Regions from separate parts of the Homo sapiens genome. Here region 1 is linked to region 2. The links come from fine-mapping of genetic effects on gene expression. A gene starts in region 2. The other region holds a variant in brackets. All regions are shown on one strand. Distances are between the middles of the regions. Region 1 overlaps B4GALNT3 (beta-1,4-N-acetyl-galactosaminyltransferase 3). Region 2 holds the start of B4GALNT3 (beta-1,4-N-acetyl-galactosaminyltransferase 3).

Region 1 (5,374 bases), 56 kb before region 2:
TCAACCAATAGCGATTGAAAATATTCAGAAAAATAAAAATAAAAAATACGATAATAGAAAATACAAGTTAAAAATACACAGCATGACAACTATTTACAATGCTATGTAACTGCAAATGCTATTGCATTGTATTAAGTATTAGAAGTAATCTACAGATGATTTAAAGTATATGGGAGGGGCTGGGCACAGTGCCTCATGCCTGTAATTCTAGTACTCTGAGAGGCTGAGGTGGGAGGATAGCTTAGAGCCCAGGAGTTGGAGACCAGGCTGAGCAACACAACAGACCCCATCTTTACAACAACAACAATTAGCCGGGCATGGTGGCACACGCCTGTGGTCCTAGAGGCTGAGGAGGGAGGACTGCTTGAGTCCCTGAGTTGGAGTCTGCAGTGAGCTATGATCACCACTGCACTCCAGCCTGGGGAACAGAGTGAGACCCAGAGTCTTAAAAAAATCATATGGAAGGATGTATGTAGGTTATATGCAAATACTGCACCATATTTTATATAAGGGACCTGAGTATCCTCGGATTTTGGTATCCATGGGGAATTCTGGAATCAATCCGTCGTGGATACCAAGAGACAACTGCGCATAGCTGCCTTGTTTGGCTCTGAGTGGATGATTGAAGATGGGTAAGAACCACTTTCAGAGCAGAAAGATCTGGAACTGAATTCCCACCCTGCCACTTTTTAGCTTGTGACCTTTGGCAAGTTCCTTAATATCTTAAAGCCCAGTTGTTTCACCCCTCTACCCTCATAATTCAGCTGGAAAGATGAATTAGGTAAATGAATGAATTAATTTCCAATGCACAACAGCCCTGTAAGGTACTATTCTCCCCATTTTCCTAACGATAAAACTGAGGTTTAAAGAGTTTACATGATTTGCCCCAGATCTTAAAAGTAGCTAAACTGGGATTCAAACTAATTCTGTTTGGTTTCAAAGACCTCACTCTTCCCACTACTGCCTGGTTAATTCTCATTCCAATCCTGTGAAGCCAGTATTGTGGAGCCCCACTGGTGAGGAATTGATAAGTCATGGCTGATGGTCCTGCCACGGCCGCTAATGCATGGCTGGACTGGAGTTCACACCCAGCCTGCCTCTCCTATGCTTTCCCCATGGCACAGCCCTGCTTCATGCAGGAAGGATGGGTTTGATAACATGACAAGTACATAACTGAGCACTGAGCAAAGTCTCCTGGAATCCAGAGAGGAGGATCCTGGTGGTCAGGGAAGACATCATGGGGAAGTAGGTCATGAATAGGCATTTTGGGGAAGGTGGAATTGCTGGGTCTGGGAATGTAAATAAATCACTGAAATAAAATAAAACGGAAATAACATCACTGTCCCTAAAGAGACCTAGATTTTACAGGGCCACCTCCAACCCCCTCGCCTCCCACAAGACACCTGTCTTGGGTCCCTGACTGGAACCCAGAAGCTTTGTTTCTAAAATACAAGTAACATATGTTTACCTCCCTCCCCCTAAATCACAGAGTACAGAAGTGTGTCAAGCAGAAGGTTATGATTCCCCTGTAATCCCTGATCTTCTCCCATGGGCTACTCCTTATCCTTTTGCTAAATGCTCCTCATTTTTCCTTTAACCTTTAAACACTGGATTGCTTACCTTAGGGTCAGTCCCCGATATTTGTCTTTGCCATCAACACTGCTGCCTTGCTGATCTCAGCAGGTTTTTTGGGACACCATCTGTACATTGATGACTTCCCTAGCCTTAGCCTGAACTCCCCGCTTATACAGTGAATTTTCTTACTCACTCTCTCACTTGGATACCAAAGGCATCTGAAACTTAACCTAACTCTTGATTTTTCCTCCCAAACCTGCACCTCTCCATCCTGTAAATGACAACTCCAGCCTTCCAACCACCCAGGTCAAAAATCTTCAAACTACTTGATTCCTCTCCCCATATCCAATCCCTCATTGATTCCTCTCCCCATATCCAATCCCTCAGCAAGTCTCATCAGCCATACTTTCAAAAGCCATCCAAAATCTGATGACTTCTCCCTCCTCCGTCTCCACCACTCCAGTCCTAGACATCATCGCTCTTCCAGTCCCCTTGTATCCACCCCTGCACCTATGGTCTAGTAGCCAGAGGAACTCCACCAAAATGTAAGTCAGGCCATGCCAGTCCTTGCTTGGAACCTTCCAGTGACTTCCCAAATCACTCAAATACAATCCAAGATCCTTCTGATGGCCAATGAGTAACGTTTATTGGGGAAAGACCCAGTTTACACTTGTTACCCTGACAATTATTAATGGTACCTGCTTTCACTCTCAAAAATATTCCAATTTAAACAATCAATTATATGGTTGCTCAACGAGTAAGGCCTTGCAGATTAAATCTCCGACCTTGTCTCCTATCTCTTTACCACCATTTCATTCCAGCTACCCTGATCTCCTTGCTGTCCTTCCAATATGCCAGGCATGCTGTACCCCGGGCCTTTGCATGTCCTCTACCTAAAACACACTTCCCTGCGAAGGTTTCTTGCCCTTTTTACTCAGATCTCTGCTCAAATATCAGAAGCCTTTCCTGATCATCCTATCTATAATAACACGCTACCTCCAGCCTATCACTCTCTTTCTAACTCTGTATTATTTTTCTCAATAGCATTTATTACCACTTGACATATTATGTGTGCATGTGTATAAAATCTATCTTCTCCCCACACATATACTTTGAATGTATGTTCCATGAAAGCAGGATTTTTTTTTTTTTTTTTGAGACGGAGTCTCGCTCTGTCGCCCAGGCTGGAGTGCAGTGGCACTATCTCGGCTCACTGCAAGCTCTGCCTCCCGGGTTCATGCCATTCTCCTGCCTTAGCCTCCCGAGTAGCTGGGACTACAGGCACCCGCCACCACGCCTGGCTAATTTTTGTGTGTGTGTGTGTT[T/GT]TTAGTAGAGATGGGGTTTCACCACGTTAGCCAGGATGGTCTCGATCTCCTGACCTCGTGATCCACCAGTCTCAGCCTCCCAAAGTGCTGGGATTACAGGCATGAGCCACTGTGCCCGGCTGAAAGCAGGATTTTTGTCTACTTTTTTCATTATGCCCAGCACATAGGTACTTGTTCAACAAACAATGTTACTGACAATAGTATCCCTATAGGCAGTAGGGGAAGAACTTCAGAGTCAGGCGCTAAGACATCTAGCTTAATCTCTAAGCCTTGGTTTTCATCTCTGTGAAACAGCTATATTAGTAGTATTTCCCAAACGGGGTTATGAGGATCAAATGAGAGTGGCATACGGTAAATATTCGATAAATACGAGATGATAAAAACAATAAGAGCTAACACATTTAGCATTTACAATATGCCAGGCAGTGTCTTAAACATCTTACAAATTTATCCCTTTTAATTGTCATAAAAACCCTTTGAGGCTGGGTGCGGTGGCTCACGCCTAAAATCCCAGCACTTTGGGAGGCTGAGGCAGGTGGATCACGAGGTCAGGAGATTGAGACCACCCTGGCTAACATGGTGAAACCCCGTCTCTACTAAAATACGAAAAAAAAAATTAGCTGGGTGTGGTGGTGCCCGCCTGTAGCCCCAGCTACTCAGTACTCGGGAGGCTGAGGCAGGAGAACCGCTTGAACCCAGGGAGGTGGAGGTTGCAGTAAGCCAAGATTGCGCCACTGCACTCCAGCCTGGCAACAGAGTGAGACTGTCTCAAAAAACAACAACAACGACAACAACAAAAAAACCCCTTTGAGGTAGGTACTATTATTGCCTTCCTTTCACAGATGAGGAAATTGAACTTCAGAGAGGTTAAGTAACTTGCCACATGGCTAGTAAGTTGTGGAGCCAGGAACTCAAGGTCTTTGGTTCCAGAATTTGTGTTCTTTCTTTCTTTTCTTTTTGAGACAGAGCCTTGCTCTGTCACCCAGGCTCAAGTGCAGTGGTGCGATCTCGACTCCACCTCCCAGGTTCAAGCGATTCTCTTGCCTCAGCCTCTCGAGTAGCTGGGATTACAGGCTCCCACCACCAAGCCTGGCTAATTTTTGTATTTTTAGTGGAGACGAGGTTTCACCATGTTGGCCAGGCTGGTCTCGAGCTCCTGACCTCAGGTGATCTGCCCGCCTTGGCCTTCCAAAGTGCTGGGATTACAGGTGTAAGCCACCACGCCCAGCCCAGAATTTGTGTTCTTAACCACTATTCTGATTCAATTCTAAACTCTTCTTATACATGGACCCTTTTTTGTTTCCTAGAAATCCCAAGTATTCACCACAACCAGTGATCAGACATAAATAAGAAAAAAAAGCATCTCTTCTCCTTCTCTGCCTCCCCACCATAACTAATGTTGACAGTGCAACAACCTTCCATGCCTTCCTCCTTGCTCTCATACTAATAGAATTTATTAGTCTTTTATTTAAAAAAAATAGGCTGGGCGTGGTGGCTCATGCCTGTAATCCCAGCACTTTGGGAGGCCGAGGCGGGCAGATCACGAGGTCAGTAGATCGAGACCATCCTGGCTAACACGGTGAAACCCCGCCTCTACTAAAAATACAAAAAATTAGCCAGGCGTGGTGGCGGGCACCTGTAGTCCCAGCTACTTGGGAGGCTGAGGCAGGAGAATGGCGTGAACCCGGGAGGTGGAGCTTGCAGTGAGCCAAGATCGCGCCACTGCACTCCAGCCTGGGGGACAGAGCGAGACTCCGTCTCAAAAAAAAAAAAAAAAACAAAAACGGACAATAACAAGTGTTGGCAAGAACATAGAGAAATTGGAACCCTCATACATGGCTGGTGAGAATGTAAAATGGTGTAGCCGATTTGGAAAAATCTGACAGTCCCTCAAAACATGGAGTTACTATTTGACCCAGCAGTTCTATTCCCAGGTATACACCCAACAGAAATGAAAGCCTCAGCGCAGCATTATTCCTAATAGCCAAAAAGCGGAAACAATGCAAATGTCCATCATCAACTATGAATGGAGAAGCAAAATGTGGTCTATCCACACAACAGAATATAACTTAGCAATAAAAAGAAATGGACTGGGCACAGTGGCTCACGCCTGTAATCCGCATGCTTTGGGAAACTGAGGTCAGAGGACTGCTTGAGGCCAGGAGTTAGGGATCAGCCTGGGCAACATAGGGAGACCGCGTCTATACAAAAATGTTTGAGGCCGTAGTGAGCTATTGTCAGAGGTGCTGGAGCAACTCCACCTTGAATAGAGGCTGGCTAAAATAAGGCTAAGACCTGCTGGACTGCATTCCCAGTAAGTTAAGCCATTCTTAATCACAGAATGAGATAGGAGGTATAAGATAGGAGGCATAAGATACAGGTCATAAAGACCTTGCTGATAAAACAGACTGCAGGAAAGAAGCCGGCTAAAACCCACCAAAACCAAGATGGTGATAAAAGTGACCTCTGGTTGT
Region 2 (5,374 bases):
AATGGGGGCTGGCCTTCCAGATGACAGGGAGCTGGTGGGTGGTGGAGTGAGTTGGCAGGGATTGCTAGAGAGGGGAGGCAGGGTGGCTTGCTGGAAAGCAGAGCCAACAAGCTGGTTCTGGTTGCTGTGGTTGAGGCCAGAGGTACAGGCCTGGGAGGTGCAGTTTTACTACCCTGGTTCCTGTTGGTATCCAAGAGTGTGGAGGTGGGAATGCTAGCAACCCCCTTCCCACCTCTCCTTTCCTAATGCCTCCTCCCTGGCTCTCCCTCCAGAGGAATAGCTCTGAGCTGAGAATGAAACCTATAGGAAAAGAGGGAACTTTGATGCAAGATGTCTGGGCTTCTTAACAACAAAAAAGGATGGGAGACAAGGAGGCAGAAACCACAGCTCCAGTCTAAATCTTATTCCACAGGGAAATCGAGAGTAGAATATAACGGGACAGCGCAGGACAAAAAGACACCCTGCACAATAGATGAATTTCAGGGTTCTAAGAGGAGAGAGGAAACAAGGTGCATCAGTGTGTGAGCTTAGCCTCCTGTTAAAAACCATGAGTAAGGAAACGAAGTCAATTCTGGCATAGAGGCTGGGAAGAGTTTTCTGGATAATTGGTTTGGAAAAGAAAATAAAAAATAAGGAAACCCAGTCAGAGAGTTAAGATTCTTCTGGGAGGGGAACCCAACAGACTCAAGAATTGATGGCTCGGAATGAGGCGGCCCACGGGAGACAGAGGCAGAGGTCGAGGGCCAGAGTGTCAGATTATGACTGTGGCAAACTAGATCCAGGTTTGGGGAGAAAACACACCGGAGGTAAAAGAAAAGTGAGGAGAGGGAGAAAGGGAGGTTACTGATTCCAAGGTCACAAAGCAACTGCCTTTCTCTCTGTTTTTAATTTGTGCACAAGATCCCACTGGCTAAACAAAATGATGGCTACACTGGGAGGAGGTGTCGCCTCCCAGGCCCCCACCCACACACACTCCAAAGGAGCTCATCCATTTGGGCCTGAGTGGCCATGGCGGGGGAGAATAGATTCACTCTCTGTCTTTCAGAAGGAAGAACAAGGCCCAGAGGAGGGAAGAATTCACTATGGGCGGCAGATTTTGGTCATCAGAGGAAGGGGCTCTGCTGCTTGGAGTCGTGGCCCCGGGGTGGAAGCTATGGCTTCCTGGTGATGTGCTGAGCTCTCTGGCCCTGGAAACGCTTGCGTGCAGATCAGTCTTCGTATCCAGACTGAAAGACACCTTGGAGATCATTTGGACCAAAGGCCTCATTTTCACCTGAGAAGCTGTCGTTTTTCCCTTGATTCCCCCGCTAGTTAGTGGCAGAGCCAGTCTCCTCTAACTCACAGCCGGAATGATTTCCATCACCACAGAAAGGTTAGGCCATAAATATACATTTCCAACCTGAACCAGCTCAGCGACTGTCCCTAGTAATTCTCTCTCTTTGGCCACAAGAGAAGGCACAGCACCACACCCAACTCTGGGTAGAGAAGCTGACACGACGACAGGTCAGAGTCAGAGTATCTTCTCAGCTGCTTGCTCAGCCACTCTGTCCGAGTTTCCCCAAAGCGGGAGGAAAGTGAAGGCATGGGAGGCCACGTGCCAGAACTTTGAACCTCGGCTCCCCGGGCTTGCGTTGGGCACCTGGTAGTAACGGGAGTTTCTCCATTTCTTTTCCCAACTATTACAGGATCTTTTACGGCCCCTGTCACTGTCAGTTTTACTTTGTTAGGCCCATCCACAGTACGTTGAAAACCACCTCGCACAGCCATACCTATTGATGTAAAAAGGCAAAGAGACCACGCTCTCCTGTTTTCCTAGGAGGAAACTGAGGCACGGAAATATTAAGTGGCTTTGGCTAAGTTAAAAACAGAAGTAGGAATCTACCTGCTGCCCGGTCCACTGTGCTGTCCATCATCTCCTTAAACTGGGGAGTTTGGTAGATTTGCTCAGGGTTCAGAAAAGTGGCAGAAGGGGCGGCCCGAACAGGAGAAAGAGGGCGCAGCGAGGAGGTGGGAGATTCAAAGAGCCGAGGACGGAGGCTGGGAGAGGAGCGACGTATGGGAAGCGGGGAAGAGACGGGACTCTCCGAGGTATGGTAAAAAAGAACCCCCCTAGAAGATGCAGCAGGAGAGGAAACGGAGTGAGCCAAACAGAAGGCGGTGGGCAAAGTTTGGGCTGCGCGGACTGGAGCGCGCGCCTGGGTGTGGACGGCCGAGGGCATCCCGCACCCGAATCCCTAGCTCGCGCGTGGACCCCACGGACCTCCTCCCCGGGAACCGCAAGCCCGGAGCGGCTGGAGGGGCCCGGTCTCCGCCAGCGTCTCGGCGGGACGGGCGGGGAGCCTCTCTCCGGGTCGCTCTCCGAGGGGAGACGCGAGGAGCCCCCAGGGTGCCCCGGACCCACGTGGCCGGCGGGCAGGCCCGGGCTCGGGAATTCTGCGCTCGGCCCCGCGGCTTCCCCCGCCCGCAGCTCTCCCCGAGTACGCGCGGGGCGACGCCGGGCACCTGAGGGAGAAATGGGTGGGAAATCGGGTCTGAGGATGGGATGAGAGGCGGGTCCCCCCAACGCAGGAGCCGCCGCCGCCGCCCACCCCCGCGCCCTTCGCCTCCCCTGGGTGCTACTTACTCCGGTTCAGGGGGTTCCCGCCGACCTGGGCCGACGCCACCAGTTCCAGATACAGAGTCCAGAGCCCCACAGACACCACGGCGAGCGCCAGCAGCAGCCGGAAGCGCCTCCGCAGCAGCTTCACCGGGCGCAGGAGCAGCGGGGGCCGCGCGGCCCGGGGGCTCCCCATGGCGCTGCGCCGAGGCGGCCGCCGCCAGCGCGGGCTCCAACCCCCCGAGCCGCCGCCCCCCGGCCGGGCCCCGCGCCCAGGGCGCCCCGCGTCCCGGCCCAGCGTCTCAGGGCTGCGCCGAGGCCGTCTCTCCCGGCCGCTCTCCGGCGGGGCTCGGGCTCATGCTCCGGGCGCGAGGGGTCTCCGGGCTGCGCGGGCGCCCAGCAGGTCTCTCCGGGAGCCGAGCCCGGCTCCTCCTCCGCGCGTGTGTTCCGCGCCGGGCTCTCCTCCCCACGCCTCTCCCGTCGCAGGCTCGCTGCCGCCCTCCCTCCCTGCGCGCCCGCCCTCACTCGCTGCCCAGAAGGAGGCTTCCCCGGCGCCCGCCCGCCTGCCTCCGCCCGCGCCCCCGCCAGCCCCGGACCGGGCTCCGGGCTCTGGGCTCTCCTGCTCGCGGAACCTGGCCCGCCCCCGGCCCCGCCCCCGCCCCCGCCCCGGGCACAGGTGGGCTCCGCCCCCGAGAAGCCAGGGACGCGAAGAGGCCATTCGGCTTCCCTAGGGGAGCGAGAGGTGGGGCCAGAGAACTGGTGCCTGGTGCCTCCCCCGACTGGGAACGGGTGGGATGAGGAGGGGGCGAGTGATGATGCGGACTCTGGGTGACCGAGGGAAACCGAGTCACCACCCAGGCGCCTAACGGTGTGGTTTTAGGCAGAAGCGAAGTAGAGGCTGGTTTGGGCGACGCCCAAGGCTTTAGCCTCAGAGCCTTTCGTCGCCAACAGCAACGACCCGACTCCCTGCTTGACGAAACCAGTAGGCGTGAAATATCACGGGAGCCACTGGACGCTTAACGCAGACATAGCTTCGTTTTCCAGTTGAGATTTGAAGACCTTTCTTCCCAGCCTGAACCACATCTCCGAGAGGCGCTGGGGAAGTCGTACAGCCCCCACGGTGAACCCCAGCAAGCAGTTTTCCCCAGACTGGGCTGGAATGGCTGTTTGAAGAGAGTAGGTGTTTGAGGGTTCCGAAAAAGAATTTTAAAAAGAAAAGAAAAGTATTCACTCTTAGAGTTGAAAAGATCAGCAAGATAAGCCAGGCACAGTGGCTCACGGCTGTCGTCCCAGCACTTTGAGAGGCTGAGGCAAGAGGATCTCTTGATCTCTGGAGGTCAAGGCTGCAGTGAGCCGTGATTGCGTCAGTGCACTCCAGCCTGGGCAACACAGCAAGACCCTGTCTCAAAAAAAAAAAAATCAGTATTCCAGTCCTCTGCCTTCAGGCAGGTAAAGCATTATTATCTGATTTAAATTAGATAAAGTATCAAGGGGCAGAATAACTGCCCCAGGTCACTCAGCAAGTTATACTGCAGTTTTCTTTTCCATTATCTCTTCTGGGAAAAATGGTCAGGAGACTATGGGAAAAGTGAAGGATCAAAGTGTTCCTGGACATTTTAAAATCAAATGAATATCACACAAGTACTGTTCCAAGACAGAGGTTCTCACAGAATTGAGAACTATGTTTCCCTTCTCTCTGTTCTCACCTCAGTTGGATATTCAATAGTTTCTACAGGACTTTTCCTAATTAGCCTCCCCAACTCCAAGCTTCCCATCGCATCCTGTCCACTACCACCAGATGGTCTTCATAAAAAGCCAGGCATGGTGACACACACCTGTAGTCCTAACTTACTCGGGAGGCTGAGGTGGGAGGAGTGTAAGGTTGTAGTGAGCCACAATCATGCCACTGCACTCCAGCCTGGGTGACAGAGCAAGACCTTGTCTCAAAAAAAAAAAAAAAAAAAAAAAAATCCCGTATGTAGTCACACACCTGCTCAAAAATATTTAATGGCTTCCAATGCTTATTGATTAAGATACACACTGTAAATCCAGAATTCAGGGCCTTCCAGAACCTTTTCCAACTTTATGTGACCACATGAAACCTGCTCCAGCTAAAACGAGTTTATTCACTACCCTCCAACACATTTTCTTTTCTAGTTGGTCAACTTGTACCCTTTATCCAAGGTCCATTTCAGATTCTATAAAGCTTTCTTGGACCAGCCAAGTCCTAAGCAACTCCTTCCTTTCTGGAGCTTTAGTAGAACTTGCCATCTGTCTCACCATCTGATATGTTGGAACTTACTTGGAGTGTGTGAGTCTTGTTTTCCCAACCTCACTGTAAGGCTTCAAAAATGGGAGCTGCATTTCCAGTGGGTGGTACAATGTCCACTTAGCACTTAGGAAGGTTTGAGGATGGGGGTAGCACTTTGAGCAAACATCTTCCAGAACTTTCACTGCAGTTCTTTAGCAAAAAGGGTGAATCCAAAGGACAATTCTCTAATTGTAGCCCCTGGGAAAGGTCTCTGTGAAGTTCCAAAGCCACAGATTCCTGTACTTCTCATGTTCTTCTTTCTTTCCACAAGTCCAAGATAGGAGCAGCCAGTGTGTGCACGGCCTGTGCAAGCTCGGCTGAGTCAAGTGGGAAGTGACCGGGCCCTGTAAATAGAGTCCCTCTCTTACTAAGGGCAACCCAACTGGATTTTAGGTTGAGTCACTTTTAACACTTTGTCATGGAAACAGGTGGCAGCCTTGCCACAATTCTCTCCTCAAGACTGAGAA

Evidence for each region. PIP is the estimated chance that this variant, and not a neighbour inherited with it, causes the effect. A credible set is the group of variants that fine-mapping cannot tell apart.
Region 1: its variant is the best candidate, but not a certain one, in a credible set for the expression of B4GALNT3 in tibial nerve (GTEx, PIP 0.82).

The regions. Positions count from the first base shown.
Region 1 is chr12:513,503-518,876 of GRCh38, reverse strand. All of the region lies in intron 1 of B4GALNT3 (beta-1,4-N-acetyl-galactosaminyltransferase 3), which reads right to left. Among named protein-coding and RNA genes, the nearest start is that of B4GALNT3, 56 kb to the right of the region's middle. The variant T/GT (reference allele first, on the strand shown) is at 2,901.
Region 2 is chr12:457,795-463,168 of GRCh38, reverse strand. B4GALNT3 (beta-1,4-N-acetyl-galactosaminyltransferase 3) reads right to left here and starts at 3,230. Exons shown (of 20, transcript NM_173593.4): 1 at 2,624-3,230. The coding sequence starts at 2,792. RefSeq lists an enhancer at 3,079-4,062.